Homo sapiens: one gene and its partners. The protein of the gene in region 2 interacts with the protein of the main gene of each other region in a pairwise test. Each region holds a gene or a part of one and is shown on either strand. Other genes may lie near its edges.

Region 1 (3,750 bases), on a different chromosome or scaffold from region 2:
TATTTCTTTGGGGTAGTCTATGAAAAAGAATGAATGCTTCAAAGATAAAAACCTTCTCCCCTCTTTGGTATGTGAAGCTAGGTTTGGTTTAGGGGGCTTGGCACCTTTAAGAGTTTACTTTCACCAGACATACATCTACCTGCTTTACACAGTGACCCAGTGAGATCGGTGCTAAGATGATGCCCATTTTACAGAGGTGCAAACTGAGACATAGGGAGGCCAGTGTCACACAGTAAGCAGGAAAGCCTGTGCAATTCCAGCCACGCAGAGTCTGGAGTAGTTGGTCCCAAACAGGGCGTGTTTGCTCCTCAGGGACACTGCTAATATCTGGAAACATTTTTGATGGTCTCAGCTGGAGAGGGTACTGCTGTTGGTATGTAGAGGGCAGAGGCCAGGGATGCTGCCAAGCACCCTACGATGCAGAGGACAGCCCCCACAACCAGGGATCACCTGGTTGAACATGACAAGGTTGCTGGGGGTAAGAGACTCTGGTCTGGAACCCCATTTTTTACCAGCGTCCGCCAATACCTCTCTCATTTTTTTACATTAGTCCTATGGGATGCAGGGCAAAGGTAACAGCAGGAAACTCATCTAAGCAGGTCCCATTCCATCCCCTCTGACCTGCTCTTGGTGGTTGCGAGAGGATTTGCTTGTGAGAGGTTTATTGGAAGAGGATTTGAGAACTTACTTTCATTTGAAAGCTTACAGGATATTTATGACAGTCTTTCCTTACCTGCCTTCCCCCACAAAACCAACTTCTGCAGATACACAATCTAAGTAAGAAAAATCTGCTTACTTTGAAAACACAGCTTCAAGATAACCTCCCTAGATTTTTTTTTTTTTTTTTGAGACCGGGTCTCACTCTGTTGCCCAGGCTGGAGTGCAGTGGTGCGATCACTGCTCACTGCATTCTTGACTTCCTGGGTTCAAGTGATCCTTCCACCTCAGCACCCTCCCAAGTAGCTGGGACTACAGGTGTGCACCATCACGCCCAGCTATTTTTTGATTTTTTGTAGAGACGGGGTCTCACTATGTTGCCCATGCTGGTCTCAAACTCTTGGGCTCAAGCAATCCGCTTGCCTTAGCCTCCCAAAATGCTGGGATTACAGGCATGAGCCACTGCGCCTGGCCTAGTCGCCCTAATATTTATCACAAACTCCCTCACCCTCTTCCCCAAACAACTTCACATAAATCTACAATCTAGAAAACTCTGTAGGTTGGCTTTGCAGTTTCTAGACAACTCACCCAGCACCTTTTTTCTTGTGAGATGACACCCCTAAACCACTCCTCTACTGAATTTCTAGGGAAACGCCTGTGGCTGATGTAATCATCTGCTTTCTAAGGGCCAGGTCCCCTCTGCCTAAGCCCTCGGATCCCCAGCAGTGGAGGGACAAATGCAACTTGGCTAGTCACATCGCATGCTTTAGCATGTTTCAATTTAACCCTGAAATGGCTGTAAGGGAGGGAAACCTACCAGGATTAACACAGGAGAAGTTAATCCTCAGACTCTCCTCAAGCTCTGGCTGGCATTTGAACCCCGCTGCTTTCACAGCAGCTCTTTTCCCTGAGTCAGGTGCCTAAAGCCAACCCCTTGGGGGCTCTGTCCTTCAGGGACCAGAGCGGCAGCCCCCTCCTCCCCCGACTTCTGCCCGCCGTCTCACCTTCTCTCCACGGAGCTCTCCTTTGTGGCCTTGGGTCCCGAGGGAGAGGAAGATCCTGAACCTCTGTCCTTGCCTCTCCGAGGTCCCCTGGTCTGGCAGGGGGCTGTGAGTGTCTGGGCTGGAGAAAGACGGATAGGAAGAGTAGGGTGGCCTTTGAACAGGAATTGATTGCAAAACTGGTTTCGGTTAAGTGCTGCAGGAGAGAAAAAGCAAAGCTCTAGGGCTCTTCCAGGAAATCATGGGCTCCAGCTGTCACTTTCAGTTTCCTTTTTGCCAGTTTCTCTAATTGGATGAACAAGGAGGTGAAAGAGCAGAATCCAAGTCAGGAGGCCTGAGTCTCTCGTCTCTGTCCTGGCTGTGTTATAGGATGGACCTATATGGGGTATGAAAATAGCTCCTGTGGCTTAGAGCTATGGTGAGGAGCCCATGAGCAAGCGATGGGGCGCCTGTTGAATAGTGGATTCACAGTAGCTGTCATCACTGATTGTTCTGAAACTGCTTTCCTCCACAGCATCTTACGTGACGCTGATGTGGGTAACAACCCTATGAGGTGCACAGCATTAAAGGGCTAATAACTCTGAATGCAGAATCCTCTGAAAATGGAAACTTTATTTTATTATTATTATTATTATTGTTTTTTGAGATGAAGTCTCGCTCTGTTGCCCAGGCTGGAGTGCAATGGCACGATCTCGGCTCACTGCAACCTCCGCCTCCTACGTTCAAGCTATTCCCCTGTCTCAGCCTCCCTAGTAGCTGAGATTACAGGCACCTGCCACCACGCCCGGCTGATTTTTGTATTTTTAGTAGAGATGGGGTTTTGCCATGTTGGCCAGGCTGGTCTCAAACTGCTGACCTCAAATGATCCATCCATCTAGGCCTCCCAAAGTGCTGGGATTACAGGCGTGAGCCACCGCACCTGGCCTCAGAATGAAAACTTAAAAAAAAATGATAATTTATTCATTTAGTGGCAAAACCTGACCTGATCTGGCATGAATTCACCTGTGGTTTTTATGTCTCCTGCTTAATTTGAATATTTACAGTCACTGCAGAAATATTAATATGTTTGACTGAGGAGGGCTGCTGCGGGTGCGTGGGTTACATAGTACACGATACCTGCACCCCATTACCTTTCTAAAAATCCCCCAAATCAGGAACTCTGACATGCATCTGGCCTCAAGGATTGGAGATATAGGATTGTGATACTCTGTCTCCCACTTTAAGGAAGAGGAAACCCAGGCTTCTAGAAGTTGTGGGTTGTTTGTGATTACACAGCTAAGAACCAGTCCTAGGCTCTGTGTCTACAAGAATGAGCCCACAGTGAGGTTACGGGCTGAGATCTGTGTCTCTCTAGCATTTGTGTCAAATTGTGATCAGAAGCCATGTGGTTTGTTTGTATTTATATGCCCAGAAGTCCCCAGTCACCACCCCTAGCTGAGACCACATTGGAGGCTGTTGCTTTGCAGAAGGTGCGGCCCACCTAGCCAGTCCTGGCTTTGCTGTGATAGAGGCCACCTCCTGTCCCTGGGCCCTACGAGCAGGAATGAGGGGTTAAGGGCTGCTGAGTTGGGTCTTGTAGGGGCCTTTCCAACCGTGGCATCCCGGATTCCACAACCCACCCCTGCTCCTGGCCTCCCACACTTGGGGAACACGCTAAACACAGCCTGACCTTGAGGAGGACTTGGCTGCCTGGCTGGGGCCGCTGAGCCATCCCAGGCCTGCCTGTTGTTTTCCCTGGCAACGGACCCAGATGTTGTGGTCACTGCTCGGTCCTGGGAGTCTCAGGGGCCAGACCGGCCATTGGATGGGGGCAGTGTTTACCACCAGGGCTCTTGTGAAACAATCGCCCCAAGAGATGCCATGTGAGAAAAATGTTCTGTAGCCAAATGCAGGAAGTGCTGCTTATGTAAGGGGACAGAAAACATCCACCCTATAGCTCAGATGAACAAAAGTAGGGAGTCGCTTAATTTCCTAGAGTCCACTTCCCTTCCCTCAAGGGACCCAAGACCTGCTGAAAAGAAACAAACTTGCCTGAAGGCCCCTTAGTCTCTTGTGATTTAAAACACACTCTCGGACCGGGCGCGGTGGCTCA
Region 2 (3,225 bases):
CCCAGGTGGGACAGTGGGTGGGTTGGTCCTGGGGCCTGGAGAGCCCCACAGCCCAGGGCACTACAGCGAATGACCAGGCTCAGGAAGACCCGGTCACAGGGGCTGAGCCGGGACTGAGCCTTCCTGGGAGTGACCGTGAGTCCCACCTGGTGACCCCCTGGAGGAGTTAGGCCACTGTCCCTTGTGACTTCTAGGTTAAGTAACTCACTCCTAGAAACGGTCATGGCTGGAGGAGACCAATGTCAGCTCAAAACCGTGTGTCCTCCCAGGAGAACAACAGGAAAAGAGAATCAGGTGACCAAGGAGAGTTTATTGGGGAGTAGGAGGAGGTGCTGAGAGGTTCAAGTCGAGGCCAAGTGACCCAGAGCAGAGAAGCTGGGAGGGAGGACAGGGGACCCAGCAGGCAGGTGGGCACCTGCTGGAAGGCAAGAGCTGGGGAGCAGTGAGGATGGAGGCTCCTGGGAGTAAGGAGGGAGAGGTCACCTCAGCACAGGGGAGACATGGAGACCCCATCCCAGGTAGGGGCAGCCACTTAACCCAGGACAGGACCGGAGCCGGCTGGCCCTGGGGGACGTGCCCATCAGCAGCTGGACTCCTGGCCTGAGCAGAGGCCTCAGCAGGCCAGGCGGGAGCACGCGGGGCGGCAGAGGAAGGACAGGCAGGAGGCCGGGTGGCAGCAGCTGGGCTGGCAGGAGGAGGCAGGGACACAACAGGAGGGGACAGGCACACAGCAGGCAGGCCGGCACACAGGGCGGCAGAGGAGGGACACGGAGGAGGAGGGTCTGCAGCAGGAGGTGGTGCAGCAAGCCGGCTGGCAGCTAGACTTCTGGCAGCACAGAGAGGAAGCCCCAGAGCAGACAGGCACACAGCAGATGGGCTTGCAGCAGATGGGCACACAGCAGGCCTGTTGGCATGGGGAGAAGGTGCAGCAAGCTGACTGGCAGCTAGACTGCTGGCAGCATGGGGAGGAAGCTCCAGAGCAGATGGACACGCAGCACACGGGCTTGCAGCAGTTGGACTTGCAGCACACAGGCACACAGCAGGCCTGTTGGCAGGGGGAGGAGGTGCAGCAAGCCGGCTGGCAGCTAGACTGCTGGCAGCATGAAGGTGTGCAGGAGTCGGTGCAGCCTGATTGGCAGGGGCTGGGCTCACAGCTCACTGGGGCACAGACCAGGGCCAGGCAGGGGGCTGGGGCACAGCAGCTAGGGGTACAGCAGCTGGAGGCACAGGAGCGGGGCTCGCAGCAGCTTTCCTGGCAATTGTCCACCTGCCAGGAGGAGCCAGTGCAGGTGCTGGGGGAGGAGACTCGGCTGACATGGCCCACGTCACTGGAGCAGACAGACATGGTGGATGCAGCAATCACATACGTCCTGGTGCAGCAGGCGTCAGCCATGGTGGGTGCTGGACTGGGTGGTGTGAGTGCTGGTGTGAGGTGTGTGGGTTTGTGTGCCCTGGCTGCTGAGGTTTTATACCCTCCCTGGGTATTTTCCTCACAGGAGTCTCACAAGCCTTCCCTTTCCTTGTTGTGGCTGAGACTTTGCCTCCAGGCAACCCTAATTAGTTTACTTGCTGTGGGATGTTACTGTGGTCCCAGGACTGCTGCATGTGGTTGGGTGATGCTGACCACTTGCAGGTGTCTGTGCCCTGCAACCACACACAGTGATGCTGCGTGTCTGCTGGTGGAGCTGGGAGTTGAACAGATCGTGAGTTGGCAAGTCTGGAAAACCCAGCCCCACTTTCCTCCTGTCTTTGCCTGTATGTCTTTGCTATTGGGGTATTTGGTACCAGGGGTGGGGTGTTTTTTTACCAGCAGATGTTCTCCACCTGTCCCAGAGTTCTGCTCCATTGAACAATGGGTGTCTCGGCTAGGAATGCCCCCTGGCTCCCCACCCTGCCACCCCTACCTGTTCCATCTGCAAACTATGGTGCGATGCCCCTGTATTAGTCCATTTTCACACTGCTGATAGAGACATACCCAAGACTGAGAGGAAAAAGGGCTTTAATTGGACTTACAGTTCCACATGGCTGGGGAGGCCGCAGAATCTTGGTGGGAGCTGACAGGCACTTCTTACATGGTGACAGCAAGAGAAAATGAGGAAGAAGCAAAAGCAGAAGCCCCTGATAAACCCATCAGATCTTGTGAGACTTATTCACTACCACTAGAATAGCACAGGAAAAGACCGGCCCCCATGATTCAATTATCTCCCCCTGGGTTCCTCCCACAACATGTAGGAATGCTGGGAGATGAAATTCAAGTCGAGATTTGGGTAAGGACACAGCCAAACCATATCATTCTGTCCCTGGCCCTTCCAAATCTTATGTCTTCACATTTCAAAACCAGTCATGCCTTCCCAACAGTCCCCCAAAGTCTTAACTCATTTCAGCATTAACCCAAAAGTCCACAGTCCAAAGTTTCATCTGAGACAAGACAAGTCTCTTCCACCTATGAGCCTGTAAAATCAAAAACAAGCTAGTTTCTTCCTAGATAAAATAGGGGTACAGGTATTGGGTAAATACAGCCATTCCAAATGGCAGAAATTGGCCAAAACAAAGGGATTTTACAGGGCCCATGCAAGTCCAAAATCCAGCAGGGGAGTCAAATTTTAAAGCTCCAAAATGATCTCGTTTGACTCCAGGTCTCACATCCAGGTCATAATGATGCAAGAGGTGGGTTCCCATGGTCTCGGACAGCTCCACCCCTGTGGCTTTGCAGGGTACAGCCTCCCTCCTGGCTGCTTTCATGGGCTGGTGTTGAGTGTCAGCAGCTTTTCCAGGCACATGGTGCAAGGTGTCAATAGATCTACCATTCTGGGGTCTGGAGGATGGTGGCCCTCTTATCACAGCTCCACTAGGCAGTGCCCCAGTAGGGACTCTGTGTGGGGGCCCTGGCCCTACATTTCCCTTCTGCACTGCCGTAGCAGAGGTTCTCCATGAGGGCCCCACCCCTGCAGCAAACTTCTGCCTGGGCATCCATGCGTTTCCATATATCTTCTGAAATCTAGGCGGAGGTTCCCAAACTTCAATTCTTGACTTCTGTGCACCTGCAGGCTCAACGCAACATGGAAGCTGCCAAGGCTTGGGGCTTCCACCCTCTGAAGCCACAGTCTGAGCTGTACATTGGCTCCTTTCACCCAGGCTGCATACAGCATGGGGACCCTGGACCCACGAAACCACTTTTTCCTCCCAGGCCTCCAGGCCTCTGATGGGAGGGGCTGCCATGAAGGT
Region 3 (3,178 bases), on a different chromosome or scaffold from region 2:
CAAAAGTTTTGGGGTGGTTGGTCTGGAAGCATTCATAAATAGAACCATAAAGTTGGCCCTACTAAACATTTCAACTGCTACTATAACCTGGCCCTCAATCCCCCTACACACAAACACAGTTTATTCATGAGGATAGATGCCTTGTGAAAGGCCAGAAGTGAGCCATTAAACTACAATTACAGTTTCCAATAGAAACCTCAGTACAGGGATGGAATGGTTCAACATGCGGCTGAGACCCCACTACCCTTGCAATTTTCTGTGCTAAGCAACTACAGCATATTGAAGGCCCACATGCACCCTCCACTTCCTACTCCCCTCAATTTATAATGGTGATGAGGCATTTCTGGCTTCAGTTTCAACTACGTGTGGCAAACATCTCTAAGTAGACTGAACAGTTAGTAAGTTAGGTTAAGATATTAAAATGGGGAGCAGGGTCCACATCCCTGTTGAAATAGGAGCCTGCCTGGTAACAGGTGCAAAGCATGCCTTTAACTGCAACTAACCAGTTCAGTTGTGTGGCTTCTCACTGCAGGGGCGGCAAAGGAAGAAATCCTGAGTTACACCCTCACCTGAAGGAACAGACCTCACAAGAGAAGCAAATAAACATTTTATTTCCACAGCACGCCTTCCCTTTTCCCAAAGAACATGAGTTCACCTCAGCCATCAAAGCAGAGGGCGAAAGCTGCAAGTGACAAGGCAAGAGGCTCCTAGAAAAATAGATTATACCCAAGGCTCTCCTCCTGGGGACCCAAACCCGTCCCCAGGCTCCCCCTCAGAGCTTGCCAAATGGAGTGAAAGGCATGGAAAGGGGCTGGGAGAAAAGCCAGCTCCACTGAACAAAGGGGAGAGGAGCCTGGCAGTGAGCAGACCTGGGAGGGGTGTGGGGTGGGATGAGCTTTGCTCCTTGGTTGAGTGCTGGAAAAGGGAAGGGGGAAGAAATAATTTATGTTGATGTAATTAATGTAATGATGATGTAATGGTGCGTGGTTTCAATCATGGCGACCATTCCAGATCTCTCTCAAGTGAAGCTAAATTCTGGCCGGTCTATGGAGGTAGAAATTGAGGACGGAAGGAAAGTTTAGAATCCCTCCTCCCCAGGAGAATAGACATTTATTACCCAGCTCTACCCTTTGGCCCAGCCTGCCTCCCCAAATGGCTTCCAAATCCCTCAGCTAAAATCTGCATCAGAAAATGGAATTGGAATGGGGATGTTGCCTTGCCCAAACCCTCCAGCCTCAGAACTGATAAAGAGGTTGAAGAGCAGGGGTGGGGAAAAGGAAGTTAAGGAATGAAATTACAATTTCCCCTCATCCCCTACTCAAATTCCAGTCCCAGGGCTGGGCTAGGCAGACTGGGAGAGAAGACCAGGCAGCTGTTCTCATTATCAGGGACCCATGCAGACCTGTTGGACAGACATAGTAGGTGAGAGAAGGCTGAGCTGGAGGCCAGGAGGGTTCTTTAGGCTCCTAGAGGGAGAAGCAGGGGCCTGGGGTCAAGGGGGAGTGGGAAGCAACACAGTAACAAGCAGTGGGAAGAGCCTTTGAGCCCTCAAACTTACGGGCCACCCTCCACCACCCACCCCCCAAGTGCTGACAGAGGGGCCCCTGCGGGTGGCAGGATAATCAAGGGCAGAGCTTGATGCGGGTGCCCTTGGAGAGCACCCGGAAGAAAGGAAAGACACGCTCGCCCAGGAAGGCAGCCGAGAAGGTGTGCACGTGGGCTAGAGTCTCTGCGTTGTAGAAGCCCAGGCGCCCAGCTTCATAGTCCAGGTACACACCAAAGCGCCTTGGTTTCTCACTGGGGCTCAGCAGCGTCTGTTCTGTGGAGCTCTGGGCCTGATAGCGTTTGCCGTTGGTGCCCACGCACCACACTTCCCGCTGGAGCAGGGGCTGCTGGGGCAGGTGGAGCCGGCGGCGGCGATGGTGATGGCGCGAGGAGCTGGCATCCCCGCTGCCCACGGAGGAACCCCCAGGGCCCACCTTTTCCTTATGATGGGTTGATTCACGGGCAGCACCCACCGCCCAGCCCCGCCGCCCGCCCACCTCTACCTCCCAGTAGTGCCGGCCGGAGCGGAAGCCCTGGGCCCCCAGTACGCAGCAGTCGGCCGAGAAGCGCTTGGGATGGTCAGCAACCTCCTGCCGCCGCTCTGCCAGGCGGACCCCCCGGCGGTCAGGGGACAGCATCAGGGCCGGGTGAGCCGTGTCAGGGTCCAGCGTCAGGTCCACTTGGGAGGGAGGGAGGACAAATACGCCAGGGCTGGAACGGCTGTTCCCCTGTCAGCAGCCAACTCCACAGATTGGGCCCCCTTTCTCCCTGAATCCAGCTCCCCACACCATCCCAGAGGCCAGCCTCAGATTCCTGCAGGCTCATCTTGCTCCTCACTCTTGTTCCTAGGATACCTGACAGGTCTTCCCCCAGCCTGGCTCTTCCTGCCACTCCACCCCACCCCACCCTCCAGGCCTGCCTGCACTAGGTCTACCTGCTCATGGCTTGAAACCTCAACCTCAGAGTGGCTGCCTGGATCCTGCTCCATCTCAAGCCCCACAGTTTCCCTGGGGCCCAACTTCCCTCAGGACCCAGTCTCAGGTCTGTGAAGGGAAAGGCAAAGGAAGGTCGTGGAGGTGACCTCCCTACCTCTCGCAGCCTGACAGAACATCCGGCTCATTTTCCTCACGATGGCATCTGTCAGGAAGTCATGGCTATGGGGTTGGCACGGGTCAGGGGACCAGACCTCTGGGGGCTGCAGCTGTACCTCTTCACACCTGGAGGAAGGGGACCGGGCAGGGGGTGGGACCACGATATTCCCAGAGGGAAAAGCAAAAGCTGAGGGGAAGGAGAGGAGGGTCCAGGAGATGGAAACTCAGGTCCTGGGGAAGGAAGGAGAGGAGAGGGATACCGAAGAGAAGCAGGGACAGGGAACCAGATGCCACTGGGTCACGAAGGGCAAAGACTGGGAACACACCTATTGAAAGTCTCCTTGATGTCCTGGGAATAAGAGAAACAAAAAGAGGGAGAGGGAGAAAGAGATAAAGAGAGTGTCAGCTGCACAGGGACAGCGTTCCCCGATCTCCAGTCAGAGACTGAACCTGAGCAGGAAGGGAGAAGCAGCACCCTCACGGCCCTCAATGAACACACATCCATTTCAACCACCCCATGCCTCGCCATACCTAACTCGCCT

The links.
Region 1: the proteins of KRTAP10-8 (region 2) and APOL6 interact in binary tests that used the Homo sapiens proteins (3 or more experiments, as listed by UniProt).
Region 3: the proteins of KRTAP10-8 (region 2) and TRIM41 interact in binary tests that used the Homo sapiens proteins (3 or more experiments, as listed by UniProt).

The regions. Positions count from the first base shown.
Region 1 is NC_000022.11:35,646,535-35,650,284, reverse strand, and holds the start of APOL6 (apolipoprotein L6), read right to left. Parts: upstream 1,840-3,750; 5' UTR 1,662-1,839; intron 1-1,661. UniProt on the Homo sapiens protein: May affect the movement of lipids in the cytoplasm or allow the binding of lipids to organelles.
Region 2 is NC_000021.9:44,610,269-44,613,493, reverse strand, and holds KRTAP10-8 (keratin-associated protein 10-8), read right to left. Parts: upstream 1,416-3,225; 5' UTR 1,394-1,415; coding exon 614-1,393; 3' UTR 540-613; downstream 1-539. UniProt on the Homo sapiens protein: In the hair cortex, hair keratin intermediate filaments are embedded in an interfilamentous matrix, consisting of hair keratin-associated proteins (KRTAP), which are essential for the formation of a rigid and resistant hair shaft through their extensive disulfide bond cross-linking with abundant cysteine residues of hair keratins.
Region 3 is NC_000005.10:181,233,220-181,236,397, reverse strand, and holds the end of TRIM41 (E3 ubiquitin-protein ligase TRIM41), read right to left. Parts: intron 2,986-3,178; coding exon 2,963-2,985; intron 2,763-2,962; coding exon 2,635-2,762; intron 2,225-2,634; coding exon 1,623-2,224; 3' UTR 1,467-1,622; coding exon of another isoform or gene 1,308-1,466; 3' UTR 1,045-1,307; coding exon of another isoform or gene 994-1,044; 3' UTR 590-993; downstream 1-589.